Linked DNA regions of Homo sapiens. The protein of the gene in region 1 interacts with the protein of each later gene in a biochemical or structural test. Each region holds a gene or a part of one and is shown in the gene's direction. Other genes may lie near its edges.

The links. The genes of interacting proteins can lie anywhere in the genome.
Region 2: the proteins of ARHGAP21 (region 1) and GRIP1 interact in a test that uses a peptide from one of them, tested with the Homo sapiens proteins (one large-scale study listed by IntAct).
Region 3: the proteins of ARHGAP21 (region 1) and PLEKHH2 interact in a test that uses a peptide from one of them, tested with the Homo sapiens proteins (one large-scale study listed by IntAct).
Region 4: the proteins of ARHGAP21 (region 1) and KIRREL1 interact in a test that uses a peptide from one of them, tested with the Homo sapiens proteins (one large-scale study listed by IntAct).

The regions. Positions count from the first base shown.
Region 1 is NC_000010.11:24,594,888-24,598,387, reverse strand, and holds part of ARHGAP21 (rho GTPase-activating protein 21), read left to right. Parts: intron 1-378; coding exon 379-443; intron 444-804; coding exon 805-941; intron 942-1,505; coding exon 1,506-1,648; intron 1,649-2,344; coding exon 2,345-2,500; intron 2,501-2,592; coding exon 2,593-2,671; intron 2,672-3,197; coding exon 3,198-3,271; intron 3,272-3,348; coding exon 3,349-3,438; intron 3,439-3,500. UniProt on the Homo sapiens protein: Functions as a GTPase-activating protein (GAP) for RHOA and CDC42. Downstream partner of ARF1 which may control Golgi apparatus structure and function. Also required for CTNNA1 recruitment to adherens junctions.
Region 2 is NC_000012.12:66,669,077-66,672,576, reverse strand, and holds part of GRIP1 (glutamate receptor-interacting protein 1), read left to right. Parts: intron 1-3,500. UniProt on the Homo sapiens protein: May play a role as a localized scaffold for the assembly of a multiprotein signaling complex and as mediator of the trafficking of its binding partners at specific subcellular location in neurons.
Region 3 is NC_000002.12:43,699,760-43,703,259, forward strand, and holds part of PLEKHH2 (pleckstrin homology domain-containing family H member 2), read left to right. Parts: coding exon 1-849; intron 850-1,250; exon of another isoform or gene 1,251-1,322; intron 1,323-3,500. UniProt on the Homo sapiens protein: In the kidney glomerulus may play a role in linking podocyte foot processes to the glomerular basement membrane. May be involved in stabilization of F-actin by attenuating its depolymerization. Can recruit TGFB1I1 from focal adhesions to podocyte lamellipodia.
Region 4 is NC_000001.11:158,091,145-158,094,644, forward strand, and holds part of KIRREL1 (kin of IRRE-like protein 1 isoform 1 precursor), read left to right. Parts: intron 1-213; coding exon 214-412; intron 413-2,194; coding exon 2,195-2,302; intron 2,303-2,478; coding exon 2,479-2,618; intron 2,619-3,168; coding exon 3,169-3,246; intron 3,247-3,499; coding exon 3,500-3,500. UniProt on the Homo sapiens protein: Required for proper function of the glomerular filtration barrier. It is involved in the maintenance of a stable podocyte architecture with interdigitating foot processes connected by specialized cell-cell junctions, known as the slit diaphragm.

The DNA.
Region 1 (3,500 bases):
GAAAAATCACTTACACGTATATTTCTTAAATGCTGATCATTCTTTCTGGTATTAGAGAAAACACTGGCTGCTTCCTAGTCATTTATTTTAAATGGACGGATCAATTCAATAAGTATTGAACACATGTTACTTGCTGGTACTATCCTAGGTATCGCATGGATACAGAAAAGAAGCAAAACCCTTTGGCAATGTTGGGAGGCACTTGGAAAATCTTTCACACAGTGATGTTGAATAGAAGCTTTGAAACAGCTCCACTGAGAACAGATGATAGTAGTGTTTGTGTTAAATAAGCAAAGCAGTACAATAGAAAGCCTCAAAAAAGTAAGGATCACTTATTTATGTTTAGAATTGATTTTCTAATTTTACTTTATTCTGTAGGACACTGGAGTCACTAACAGGGATCTAATTAGTCGAAGAATAAAAGAATACAACAATCTGATGAGGTGAGAATCCCACCTTGCCTGCAGTTAATTTGGATATAAAATCAGTACAGTCATCCCCCTTATTTGCAAGGATACATTCCAAGACCCCCAGTGGATGCTTGAAACCGCAGATAGTACCAAATCCTCTCTACGCTATATTTTTTCCCATATAGTAATGGGCGGGTAGTGTATACAGTGTGGCTACTCGGGATGAAAGGATGATTCTTATTCTGGGCAGGACTACAAAATTGAAAGCTTATGAATTGTTTATTCCAAGAATTTTCCAGTTAATATTTTCAGACCATGGCTCACCACGGGTAACTGAAACCATAGATAGAGGGGGATTACTGTAATTGTTAACAAATGTCATTTCCTTCAACAGCAAAGCAGAACAGTTGCCAAAAACACCTCGCCAGAGTCTCAGCATCAGGCAAACTTTGCTTGGTGCTAAATCAGAGCCAAAGACTCAAAGCCCACACTCTCCGAAGGAAGAGTCGGAAAGGAAACTTCTCAGTAAAGGTATTGATGTTAGCTTTCTAACAAATAAATATAATGATTTAAAATTGGCATCGTTGAGGTACGTTTATGTTTTCTGTACCATTTCTACTGACCAGGCCCCATGTCAACTAGCTCAAAATTCATAGTAGGCTTGGTCTGGGCTCATTGGGCCTTTCCCTTTGTGAGGCCCAAGACACCAGCTTCATTATAAAGCGAAAGTGAGGGAAAATACAAACAATACTTAAATCAGAGACATTACAAATTTAAATGACTCCGAGGATTCAGGTCCTATCATTTTGAAATAAAACTATTACTTTTCCCTTTGTTGAAGTCTCACTATAAAGATGACACACTGATTCTATGTAGTTTTTTTTTTTGCTGTTTTAAAGAAAATTATAGCACGCATTATAAAAGAATGAAGTAAAAGTTATATGGAAGAGAACATATTTTTGTTAAATATAGGATGTATTATTTATATTACAGGACTTGGATTTATGTAAACATTGATAAAGTGTTTTTAAAGTCATGATTTAGACACTCATTTCCATTTTATTATGTTGTTTTATTTTGACTGGCAATCAAAAGATGATACCAGTCCCCCAAAAGACAAAGGCACATGGAGAAAAGGCATTCCAAGTATCATGAGAAAGACATTTGAGAAAAAGCCAACTGCTACAGGAACTTTCGGCGTCCGACTAGATGACTGCCCACCAGCTCATACTAATCGGGTAGGAGACACCAGCCCACCGGATTTCCTCAAGTCATTAATTCAGTTTTGATTATAATGGGATCTGAGTATATAGCCTTTCAGACAACAGAGACTGTCAATCTGTTTTCCTTTTCATAGCAGACCTTAGTTTCCCTAAGTATTTCTGACCTGTAATGCTTTTTTTCTAATGTATTGACTCCGAAATTGAATAATTATTCAACCATTAGGAATTTGTCTGAAATGGTCTGTAAGAATTCGTCTTCAAATCGTGTGTTTCTGCTTTTAGCATTTTAAAACAAGGATGAGAACAAGGACCTGATTAAGAAAGTATAATACATGTAAATGTATGTGCATATATTTAAAACACCCATGCTAGGATTCGTATCATGAATTGATATTACTCTCTCCTCCTCTTTTCTTGACTCTTTATTCAGCGGAACGGTTTCCACATTCTCTTTACCTGTTGTTACTTCCTTTTTAGAATGTTATCTCTCTGGGGGTCCCTCTCTTTCTTTCAGTCTCTTTGTTCTCTTCTTACTGTCTCAAATATCTCTTGCAGGTTTTATCTATTCCCAGATCTATAATGTCTGTATTCTTTATATTACATAACAGCAATTTATGTTTCCTTTTGGATGAAAGGGGCATTTTAGCTGTGATATACAACTACTAAACATTTGTGCTGCATTAAATAAAATGTTTATTTCTTGTTTTGCAGTATATTCCATTAATAGTTGACATATGTTGCAAATTAGTTGAAGAAAGAGGTCTTGAATATACAGGTATTTATAGAGTTCCTGGAAATAATGCAGCCATCTCAAGTATGCAAGAAGAACTCAACAAGGGAATGGCTGATATTGATATACAAGATGATGTAAGTTTGCTTATTTGAATAACTGATCCTTTTTTTTCCCCCTTTGGTGGAACTGGATATGAAAATACTATATTTCTATTTTGTACACCTAGAAATGGCGAGATTTGAATGTGATAAGCAGTTTACTAAAATCCTTCTTCAGAAAACTCCCTGAGCCTCTCTTCACAAATGGTGAGTTAACTCCCGTGAAAGATACCAGATGAAATGGTTCAAGTTACAATTGGAAAACCATAGAATATTAAATTGAACAAGGACAAAATGTCTTGGTCAAAGGAAGCAGGAGGCTTTATTTAGTTCTCCCTCATATATTAAAAACATAAAAGTTATTTAGGTTCAGTGAAATATGTATTATCTTGTTCATACATGTTTGCAGCCAAATTAATATTATTGTTTCCAGTCAAATGGCTTCTGACATCATAAGGTACAATGAGTAGAAAAATGTTTTTTCAGTCAAGCCAAGTATTTAAGTGCCATGTAAGACACTTTACTAGATGTTGTTGGAGGGTGGGGGAGGAATGGACAGGCTGTGTAAATATAGGATGGTTCCTGCAGGGAACTTACATTTTAGAAATTTACATTTCAAAACTATTAGAACTCTTTCCTATGTTGTGGTTTAAAATTGATCCTTAAAGGGAAACTAGATTACAATTCACCTAGGCAATTTAAGATAAATTTGTTTTATTGTTCTTGTCGTCAGATAAATATGCTGATTTTATTGAAGCCAATCGTAAAGAAGATCCTCTAGATCGTCTGAAAACATTAAAAAGACTAGTAGGTATTATTTTATATTTTGGGGGATACAACTAAAATTCAGCCTCTGAATCCATTGTGAAAATAATCTGTTTCAGATTCACGATTTGCCTGAACATCATTATGAAACACTTAAGTTCCTTTCAGCTCATCTGAAGACAGTGGCAGAAAATTCAGAAAAAAATAAGGTATGTAAAATGCTTATTGAAGAAATGTACTTTTAGTGGCTTTAGTTTAAAAGATATGCTTC
Region 2 (3,500 bases), on another chromosome or scaffold:
CTTTATTAAATATACAGAAGAAAATCTTATTTGCAGATTTTTAAAATAATTATTTGTTTCAGTATCGCATATATCCAAAAAAAAAATGCACCCAGATATTTATTACATGTAGCTCCTTAAAGGATGTTACTGCACCCTTCAAACCAAGGAAACTTTGACCTTGCCATTACAAAAAGCAATAAAAGCAGTGGTCTTGGATGTCTCAGTCAATGATGACCACCTAAATTCAGGCAAAGCTCGGGGTATTAGAAAGTGAGAAAGAGCTTCTTACTAATAATTCCAACTACATTATTAAATAGCTGAATATATGAAGAATACAATAAGTTACATTTGTACTAAGGAAATTTCTATTCATTTTCAAAACAGATGAATTAGGAGAAAAGGTAAAACTAAATATCACTAAAGATATGTTGTCATCATAATAATGGAAACCAATGGAGGAAAACAAATTGATTTACAAATTATTATGCTTTTTAATAAGTTGAAATTATATGTATAATACATGTTTTGTCTTACATCTTCTTCCTAATATTCTGCCCATTTGTGCACATTAGCACACACTTGTCATAGGAAACTGTTACTGTCTCTGTAGTATTTCCTTATGTGGATAATATATCTTTAGTTTGTTTCCCAGTTTTCAGTCTAATACATGATACTGAATTGTCTTTAAAGAATTTATTTTGTGCTTTAAATTGTTGCCTTCATGTATCTTCACTTTCAAGTCTTCTGATACATATTGTCTGAGAAATGTGTTTAGGATACACGTCCCACACATTTTCCCCAAGGCTTTCTTAAGCTAATAGAGGTGGCAGAGAGAAAAACAGTGGGAGAAATAGCGTTTGGATACCGTAATATCTAAAAACCAAAGCAAAGATGAGAGAAGGAGAGGCGAGAAGCAGCCCTTCTGTTTTGTAAGTGGGTCATTGCTGACCTTTGAGAGAACAGTTTTCACAGGGTATTGATGTCCAAACCAGATTATAAGGATTCTCTGCATTAAAGGCAACAAGGGCAGACCACTCTTTTAAGAAGTCTGAAGGTGAAAGTTAGGCTGTAGATGGGCAGCAGCCTGTGGGGGTGGAGGGCGGGGTCATGGGGGATAAGGAAGGCTATTATAGGATGGGAGAAATCTGAGCATTTTTTAAAAGGATAGAACCAGTAGGGAGGTAAAATTTCAAGATGCAAACTAGAAGAGGGATGAACTCTAGAACCAGGCAAGACAGTGTGAGTGTGAGACCACGAGACAGATGGCAGCCAGCTAGAGTGAGCAAGAGGGACACTCTTGTCACAGAGACAGGAAAGCATAGGAAGAAAGACTTTGAGGTGGACATTAAGGAAATTAATCAAACTTGACTTTCTTAGTAAATCAGAAGATGAGTCTAAAATCTCCTATTTTTATGAGCACCCAATTCAGGGGTTTCTAAATTTTTCTCTCCATTGGAATTACCTTGTAACCTTAAGAAAATAATGTTGCCTGGATCCAACCCCAGAGATTGTGATTTAATTGCCTGGAAGTGTGGCCTGTTCTTTGGCATTTTAACACATTCCCCAGGTGACTTTACTGTGTTAGCTGAGTTTGGGAGCCATGGACCTAACGTACTGGCAGCTTCATAGAGATGCTACTAGATATGTTTCAGCCAGAGACAAGCCCAGGAATTTTACTCAGCTGCTAGAAGGGAGAAGCTGAGCAGATATAAGGGCTATGAAACTGCTATAGCCTTCCTGTGACTTTGAGGGCAGAGCCTGTCTGAAAATGGCAGTGGATCCAAAAGAAAGAGACACCATATCTGACTGTCATCACTTCAGCCCCTGCTCAAGAACTACCTTAAGGGAGCTCTGAGCTCTCCCTTAGACTTCTTCAGTTAAGTTAGCCATTAAATGTCTTTAACACCTAAGCCCATTAGAGCCAGGTCTTTCTGTTATTTGCAATCAAAAGAGGCCTGATACAGGTTATAACGCATTTGTGTGTATACATTTTGGTGAGAGTTTTGAAGACATAGTTTAAAAATGACAGTTGACTCAACCATTTGCTGAGTCCACTCCTGAGTTGCTCTCATTCCACAGAACTGTGTGAACACCCCTGCAAATCTGAGCCTGCAGTCCTGTATGAAGTTATGAGCGCCACTGCTAACGTAGGATTTCCAGTGGATCATTTTGTTAAGTCTTCAAGTCTGCCCTCCTTGGCAGTCCACATCAGCATAGACTGGAAGGAATGTTCCATGGGGATGGAAATGAATATTGTAATTTTCATGTGATTTTTTGTCCTTACTATTTAGGGACCTAAGGGCTAACTGATCTCTCCCTTTCTTCTCCCCTTATGCGGAAGGTTATTATATGGAGAAAATAGTTGAAAGGCAGGGTTATAAAGTTTTCTGCTTTGGTTGTATGCGGTGCAATGTTCTGAGCATCTCAGCTCTTCTCATTGCTCCCTCTTCTCTTCTGTTACTTGTCTTCTTTCAATGCTAATGGACATAGCTACTCATGCAAAGGAGTTCACCCTCATTTGTATGGTGCAGAAAGTCTGTTGCCCTAGCCCACAATGAAGAGTAGACTTCATTGGTTAAAGTCATCTTCTATGGAGCCAATTGTTAAATGTTAAAGAATTTTTTGAACTAGCTTGTAAACACAATCATTTAAAATTATATAAATTTGCAATTAAATGATATTAAAAACGGAGGTAATGAATACTAACAATTCATCATTTTCTAATCATTACTACATTTTATGTTCTGTGCTCTTGAAGTCTACTCTATCTATGTGGGAGAGCTACTCTATAATGGTGTGCCACACATCTCTTAGCAACTCCACATTCAATGACATCAAGTTGGTAGACTGAAATTGGCCATAGTGGGAGTATTTACACCAGAGACATTGATGGATGCTATAAATCAAGGCATGCCCCGACAAAGCCACTTGTTAAACATTTACCAGCACACCACTGAATAGGTACTCCTGCTCTGTGTATTCATAAACCTGTATAGATGGCTTTCATTATGCTTTCTACATTTGATGATAATTCTTTGTTTATCTGTATACAACCATCAGACTATGAATTCCTTGAAAATTAGTATCCATGCTTTACTTACCATTATGTCACTGGCAAGTACAAAGTATTTGGTACAAAGAAAATGCCCAATAAGTATCTGTCGAATGGATAATGTTAATATTTATTTATTTATTTATTTATTTATTGAGACAGAGTCTCACTCTGTCACCCAGGCTGCAGTGCAGTGGCACGATCTCAGCTCACTGCAGCCTCCGCCTCCTGGGTTCAAGTGATTCTCTTGCCTCAGCCTCCCGAGTAGCTGGGATTACAGGCACCCATCACCACACCTGGCTAATTTGTTGTATTTTGGCCCGGCTGGTCTCAAACTCCTGACCCCAAGTGATCTGCCCACCTTGGCCTCCCAAAGTGCTGGGATTACAGGTGTGAGCCACCATGCCTGGCCAAATGATGTCAATTTTTAAAGATCTCCGGGCTTAACCAATCCCACACATTTGTT
Region 3 (3,500 bases), on another chromosome or scaffold:
AGCTTTGCCACAGATGGTGGCATCTCCCAGAATTCTGGGGCTCCTGTGAGTGACTGGAGCTCTGATGAGGAAGACGGGAGCAAAGGAAGATCCAAGTCCAGATGCACATCCACCCTCTCCAGTCACACATCTGAGGAAGGGGTCCAGTGTAGCAGGATGGGAAGTGAAATGTATCTGACAGCATCTGATGACAGCAGCTCTATATTTGAGGAAGAGACTTTTGGCATAAAGAGACCAGAACACAAGAAGCTATATTCTTGGCAGCAGGAGGCACAGTGGAAAGCTCTAAATAGTCCTCTTGGAAAGGGAAATTCTGAATTAAGTAAAAAGGAACAAGATAGTTCCTCGGATGAACTGAATAAAAAATTTCAATCCCAGAGACTCGATTATTCATCTTCATCGAGTGAAGCCAACACCCCAAGCCCTATTTTGACCCCAGCTTTAATGCCAAAGCATCCTAACTCACTCTCTGGAAAAGGAACACAATTAGTGCCTTCATCACACCTGCCACCCCCAAAGTTAAGGATTCCTAATGTTTTCAGTATAAGTGTAGCACTAGCCAAAAGGCACTTAAGCCAGCCACAGTTAAGCTCTGACAGGATGTTTGGTACAAATAGAAACGCTATAAGCATGATACGACCACTGAGACCTCAGGAAACTGATCTTGATCTAGTTGATGGAGACAGTACAGAAGTTTTAGAGAATATGGACACGAGTTGTGATGATGGATTATTTTCCTATGACTCCTTGGACTCTCCAAATTCAGATGACCAGGAACACTGTGACTCAGCAAAGAAGGTGGCATACAGCAAACCTCCAACTCCTCCCCTGCACCGTTTTCCTTCTTGGGTAATTATATCACCGCATGTAACACATACGCAGTAGTTTTTTTCTCAACACTTTTTTTTTCTGGGAGGGAGTCTCGCTCTGTCGCCCAAGCTGGAGTGCAGTGGCGCGATCTTGGCTCACTGCAACCTCCATCTCCCGGGTTCAAGTGATTCTCCTGCCTCAGCCTCCTGAGTAGCTGATACAGGCATGCACTACCATGCCTGGCTAATTTTTGTATTTTTGGTAGAGACGGGGTTTCGCCATGTTGGCCAGGCTGGTCTTGAACTCCTGACCTCAAGTGATCCACCTGCCTTTGCCTCCCAAAGTGTCCACACTCATTTTCAAGTTTTACTTTTTCTTTTCTTCTTTCCTTTCAAATCCAGCTTTGTTCTGACGTTTTCCAGTTTTTAGGATAAAATTTCTTCTTCTCTTCCCTCACTGAGTTCTGAATCAATTGAGAAATAAGATAATGACAAGACAGATGGGAGATCAAGGTATTACCTTATTTACTGATAAAACTAATTTTAGAGAATTAGTGGGCAAATGAGCTTTCTAATACTGAACTTTGAGATTAGCTGGATTGAGTCACCTGTTCCCAGGAAGCCCTGGACCACCACAGGATTCTGCTACTGAAGCCATGCCCCTCTAAAACTTACTACCTCAAAAAACAGAACAGATGGTTGTTTCCTGCAGGCAGCTACTTCTCAAGAGAAAGGGGAGAGGAAGTTGCCAGGCTCTGCATGCCCAGTTTCTCCTTCTCAGCTTACCAATCACATTAAGCCACTCTTCCTCTTGGGGAGGGGAAAGTGAATAGGTGGAGAGGGATCAGCAGTGTTCAATTACTGGAGGTTCCTCCATGTGGAAGGAAACATTGGAGGTGGGAAAGAAGGGTTCCCCCTAACTGTGATATTTTGGGTGAATTCTGAACCGGGACACTTAACTCTTGTTAGTTATAAGTTTTTGAACTTAGTCGTTATTTGATTGGCTTTAAGATAAATTTAATTTTCTTTTTGAGCTTATATAGCCATTGGTTTCCAAAGTATCTTTCTACAGACCTAGAATAGATAAAATCTTCTTCCATTGAAACATTGACCATTAGTAGGATAACACTGCTAGACTAAAAAAAAAAAAAAATTCTTCCAATATTTGAAATAAAATGAAATGATCTGTTTAATTTTAATTTTTTTTTTTTTTTTTGAGATGAAGTTTCACTCTTGTCTCCCGGGCTAGAGTGCAATGGCGCCATCTCAGCTCACTGCAACCTCTGCCACCTGGGTTCAGGCAATTCTCCTGCCTTAGCCTCCCAAGTAGCTGGAACTACAGACGTTTACCACCACACCTGGCTAATTTTTTGTATTTTTAGTAGAGGTGGGGTTTCACCATGTTGGCCAGGCTGGTCTTGAATGCCTGACTTCAGGTGATCCACCCACCTCAGCCTCCCAAAGTGCTGGGATTACAGGCGTGTCACGCCACTGCACCTGGTCTGAAATGATCTGTTATAGATTTAAGTTTTTCTTCACATGCTGGCATAATTTAACCTTTGGCCTCCAGAGAAACATCTGGGTTGCAGGACTCTTTTGGTTTTTGGAGTCATGTTCTTTTATTACTATATTTTTTATTTTGTGACTGATGCAGTTTTAAGCAAATTAGGGTGGACATGTTTTTCTAATATAAATTCAGAACTTAAGATGTATGTGCTCTTATTTGCTTTCAAGAGGACATTTTATTTCAATATCCACATGAAACCTTCTGTAGTTTATTACTAAATTTTGGATAGCACAGGAAAGTGGAAGTTAATGGCATGTGAATCTCTGGAATTCTAATTATGTTATACTTTAGGCAGCAAGAAATTGAAATTTTGCCTATCTTATGATGTTGAGATTTTCAGAGATTTAGGTTAGGCTTTTAAGTTCGTTTTATTTGGCAACCCATTCTACTACTTTTTTTTTTTTTTTTTTTTTTCCATTCTGTCTTCTCTTACTCTTTTGAAGCTATTCGGTCCTGAAAAAGTAGTATTGCTTTTCAAAAGCCTTCCAGCAGACTGGCCAAGTCTGAGATTTTATTTCTGTGTTTATTAGGTATTTTCAGGTTTCAAGGAAAAGAGATGTATTCTAATTGCCTCAATAAATATGAGTTTATTTTAAAAATTTCTAAGAGCTTATTTTAAGGCATAGCCTATCCTTATTGAACTGGAATACCATGCAAATTACAATAGTCACTCTAGAGGGACAACATGTGATAGTCAGCAGTACCTCCGATAGAAACAAGTGACATCCATTGCCCCTGCTCCCAGTGGCTCAGCTTGTCCTCCCAGGCCTCCAGTCCCCTCTCTCTAATTCTACTACTAACCACTTTCCCCCAGTCTCCTAGGGCTTCAGACTGCCTCCCGTCTCCTGCTTACTGCCCTTATTGTTATATGTCTTTCTGTTGCTGTTTGTGTGTGGGTGTATCTCACACTCAAAGAAACTACATCTGATTCACTCAGCCAGGCACTATTCAATCGAAAATGTCCCTGATAGTCGGAGAACTCATGCCAGTTGCCTCTCAAGCCACTGGCTGTCTTGAAGAGGATGGCCTTAGTTGCCCACTGTGTCCTGGACAGTCAACTGTGTCCAAGTTAGACCCATTATTAAATTCAGGACATGTTGCTCTATGCATTAGGAACCACCTGT
Region 4 (3,500 bases), on another chromosome or scaffold:
AGCCACTGCTTCTCCTTGAGTGGAGTGTCAGTGCCGAGGGTGTGAGGTAGCAGGTGTGACTTAGGTTTGTTACAGGGAGGTGTTAGGCTGGGCTTGTGGGGCACACATGGCACATAGGGGTGAGGGTGCCTTGAGGGTGGATCAGGGGACACGTGGGCATGGGCTTCTGCCCCCTGCCCCTTTCTTACCTTCTTCCTTCCCTCTCCACCACAGGCATGGGCCTGGAAGGAGAACTTCTTGGAGGTGGGGACCCTGGAACGCTATACAGTGGAGAGGACCAACTCAGGCAGTGGGGTGCTATCCACGCTCACCATCAACAATGTCATGGAGGCCGACTTTCAGACTCACTACAACTGCACCGCCTGGAACAGCTTCGGGCCAGGCACAGCCATCATCCAGCTGGAAGAGCGAGGTGACTGGTAGTGCTGCCTGCCAGCTGGGGTGCAGAGCAGCCTGAGGATTCTGCTCCTTCTTTTCTCCAGGGGCAGGGCTCAGCTGCTCCCCTTCCCTTGGGCTCTGCTCTGAGGGAGGGGACACACAGAGGGATGTCCTGGCTGAGAGGTCAGGAGTGAAGGGGTTTGGGGCTACTCCCCTCTGATTCCTGCCTATTGTAAGAGTCTGTGCATCAGAGGGAAAGAACTCTCTGGGGCCTTCCCTCCAGAACCTGGCCTCCATGCTCAACTGGGGAAATGCCCTCACTTCGTTAAAGTGTACTGAGCATTTGCTATGTGCCAGGCTCTGCCCCAGGGGCTGCAGAAAGAGCTGTGAACAAGACACAGTCCCTGACCTCAAGAAACTTTCGGTGTAGTGGAGGAGGGACTTACAGAGTGGTAGTAAATTAATTCGGATGGAGAAGAATCATATGAACTGCAAAAGGGAATAACACGCCCATCTCATTGGGTGGACGTGAGGATTAAATTAGAGAATATTTACAAAATGCCTGGCATACAATAGGTGTTCAGTAAGTATGGGTTCCCCTACCTCTTCAAGAATTGTCACTCTGATAGCAGAAAAGTGTTCTCTCCTTTAAGGCACTTCTCACATGATAAAAGAGGTATTCCTTTGACTTTTTTGGAAGCTACCAAGTCCAAGGAGGAAAAGATAGCATTTTTTTGTTGTTGTTTTATTTTTTGAGAACTAACCATTTGACATAGGAGATGGAGAACCACATGGAAAATGACAGCATCCCATCACTTCAGTCTTTTTTTTTTTTTTTTTTTTGAGATGGAGTCTTGCTCTGTCGCCCAGGCTGGAGTGCAGTGGTGCGATCTTGGCTCATTGCAACCTGTGCCTTCCGGGTTCAAATGAGTCTCCTACCTCAACCTCCCGAGTAGCTGGGACTACAGGCACCCGCCACTACGCCCGGCTAATTTTTTGTATTTTTAGTGGAGACGGGTTTTCACCGTGTTAGCCAAGATGGTCTCGATCTCCTGACCTCATGATTCACCCACCTCGGCCTCCCAAAGTGCTGGGATTACAGGCATGAGCCACCATGCCCGGCCTATCACTTCAGTCTTAACTAAGGATGCCAGCAAGGGGGTTGGGGGTGGGGAAGAATGGAGTAGATACAGTAACGTGGGGCTCCACAGGGAAAGATCTCAGAGGGGAAGAGCTATAAGCAGGATCTGGATTCAACTAGGGCTGCTAGGAAGACAGAGAAGGCTGGAAGCAGGATTCCTGAGCTCTTCCTCAGCTCTGGGAAGCAGAGGAAACCAAGGAAAACTGTTGGAGCCCTGAGTAGATAGGTGAACATTCGGCAGTCACAGTGGTATTATGGATGGCACAGTGGTGAAAGATGTCGGAACACGGGTGGCAGATTGGAGAGTTTGGAGACAGCTGACCTCAAAGAAGAGCGAGGGGCCAAGCATCATAGTCAGGTGGGCTGAAGGACAGGGATCGACAGACAACCAAGACCAGGGGCAAACTCCTGCCCCAGCTGCAGGGATGAGACATGACCATGATCTCCATTCTGATGGAGCTGGAGCACAGACCAAAATCCAACCACAATGCAGACCTTCCTCTCTAATCCAACCTTGACTTAAACCTAACACTGTCCCCAGGCTCAGTCAAAACTTAGCCCTGTACACAAGCCAAGGTTGCCTCTGTGGCTGTGGCCTAGCCTTTAGCCAGCACTGAGCTTAGCTCCCAGTATAACTCCAGCCTCACCCCTCCACCTTTCCTTCCCCATCGAAAGAGGTGTTACCTGTGGGCATCATAGCTGGGGCCACCATCGGCGCGAGCATCCTGCTCATCTTCTTCTTCATCGCCTTGGTATTCTTCCTCTACCGGCGCCGCAAAGGCAGTGAGTATGGGCCCTGTGCAGCCCACAGCCTTCCCCTGGCTCTTCCAGGGCCATGACAGGCAGTGCTTGGGGTGGATGGGAGGTTGGCCCTTGAGCTCCAGCCCAGAGGGAGCCAGAAGCAGCCGCTGCAGAGACCAGCAGGAAGCACTTGTTCCAGGCTGCCTCTCCCGTCCCAGGTCGCAAAGACGTGACCCTGAGGAAGCTGGATATCAAGGTGGAGACAGTGAACCGAGAGCCACTTACGATGCATTCTGACCGGGAGGATGACACCGCCAGCGTCTCCACAGCAACCCGGGTCATGAAGGCCATCTACTCGGTGAGGGTCCTGCTCCTCTCTGGCCTCCTGCCTTCTCCACCCTCTGAGGACCAGCTCCATCCCAGATCTCTAATAACCGCGGTCATTCTCTCCTTCCTCAGTCGGTCTTCCCTGGTCCTGCCACACACACTCTCCCACACTCACACACATTCTCTCACACACGCCCCAGGCTAGTTTCCTCCAGCAGAGGATAGGCAGCTGGGATTGTCCAAAGACTTCCTTTGCCCCACAGTGTGTGAAAGTTGGAAGCCCCCAGAGGCTTTCTGGTCCATCTGCCTCATTGCTGAGATGAGGAAACAGCCCTGGAGAGGGGCAGTGACATATACAAGGTCACATTACATGTTAGCAACCAAACTAGTGCTCGAACCAAGGTCTCTGGCCTCTTCCCACCACATCCCAGAGCCTCTGCTGAGAGGACCAGAACTCAAGTCTGCCCTTGACCTCAGACCCCACCCATGAGCAGGTGGCCTCTGAGCGTGGGGAGGGGTTGGTGAGGGGCGAAAAGAGCAGGGCTTCCGTCTGCTGACGTCCCACTCCTGCTGCTCCACAGTCGTTTAAGGATGATGTGGATCTGAAGCAGGACCTGCGCTGCGACACCATCGACACCCGGGAGGAGTATGAGATGAAGGTGGGAAAGGGGGAAGGGGCCAGGGCATGAGGGCTGGTGGGCCAGTGGGTTTCTGAGGTCCTGTAGCGGGGAGGTGAGGTGAGGACAGACTTGGGGAGGAGTGGTTGGGAGGGTTTTTGAAGGAGCAGAGGAGGTGGAATGCTAGATGGGGACATAGGGAGAGCTGGAGGAAGAGGCCCAGAAAGCCATGGTGAGACTTGATCCCCACCCAAGAGGGAACACTGCCTCCATCCTCTTCTCTCATTGCCCCCAGG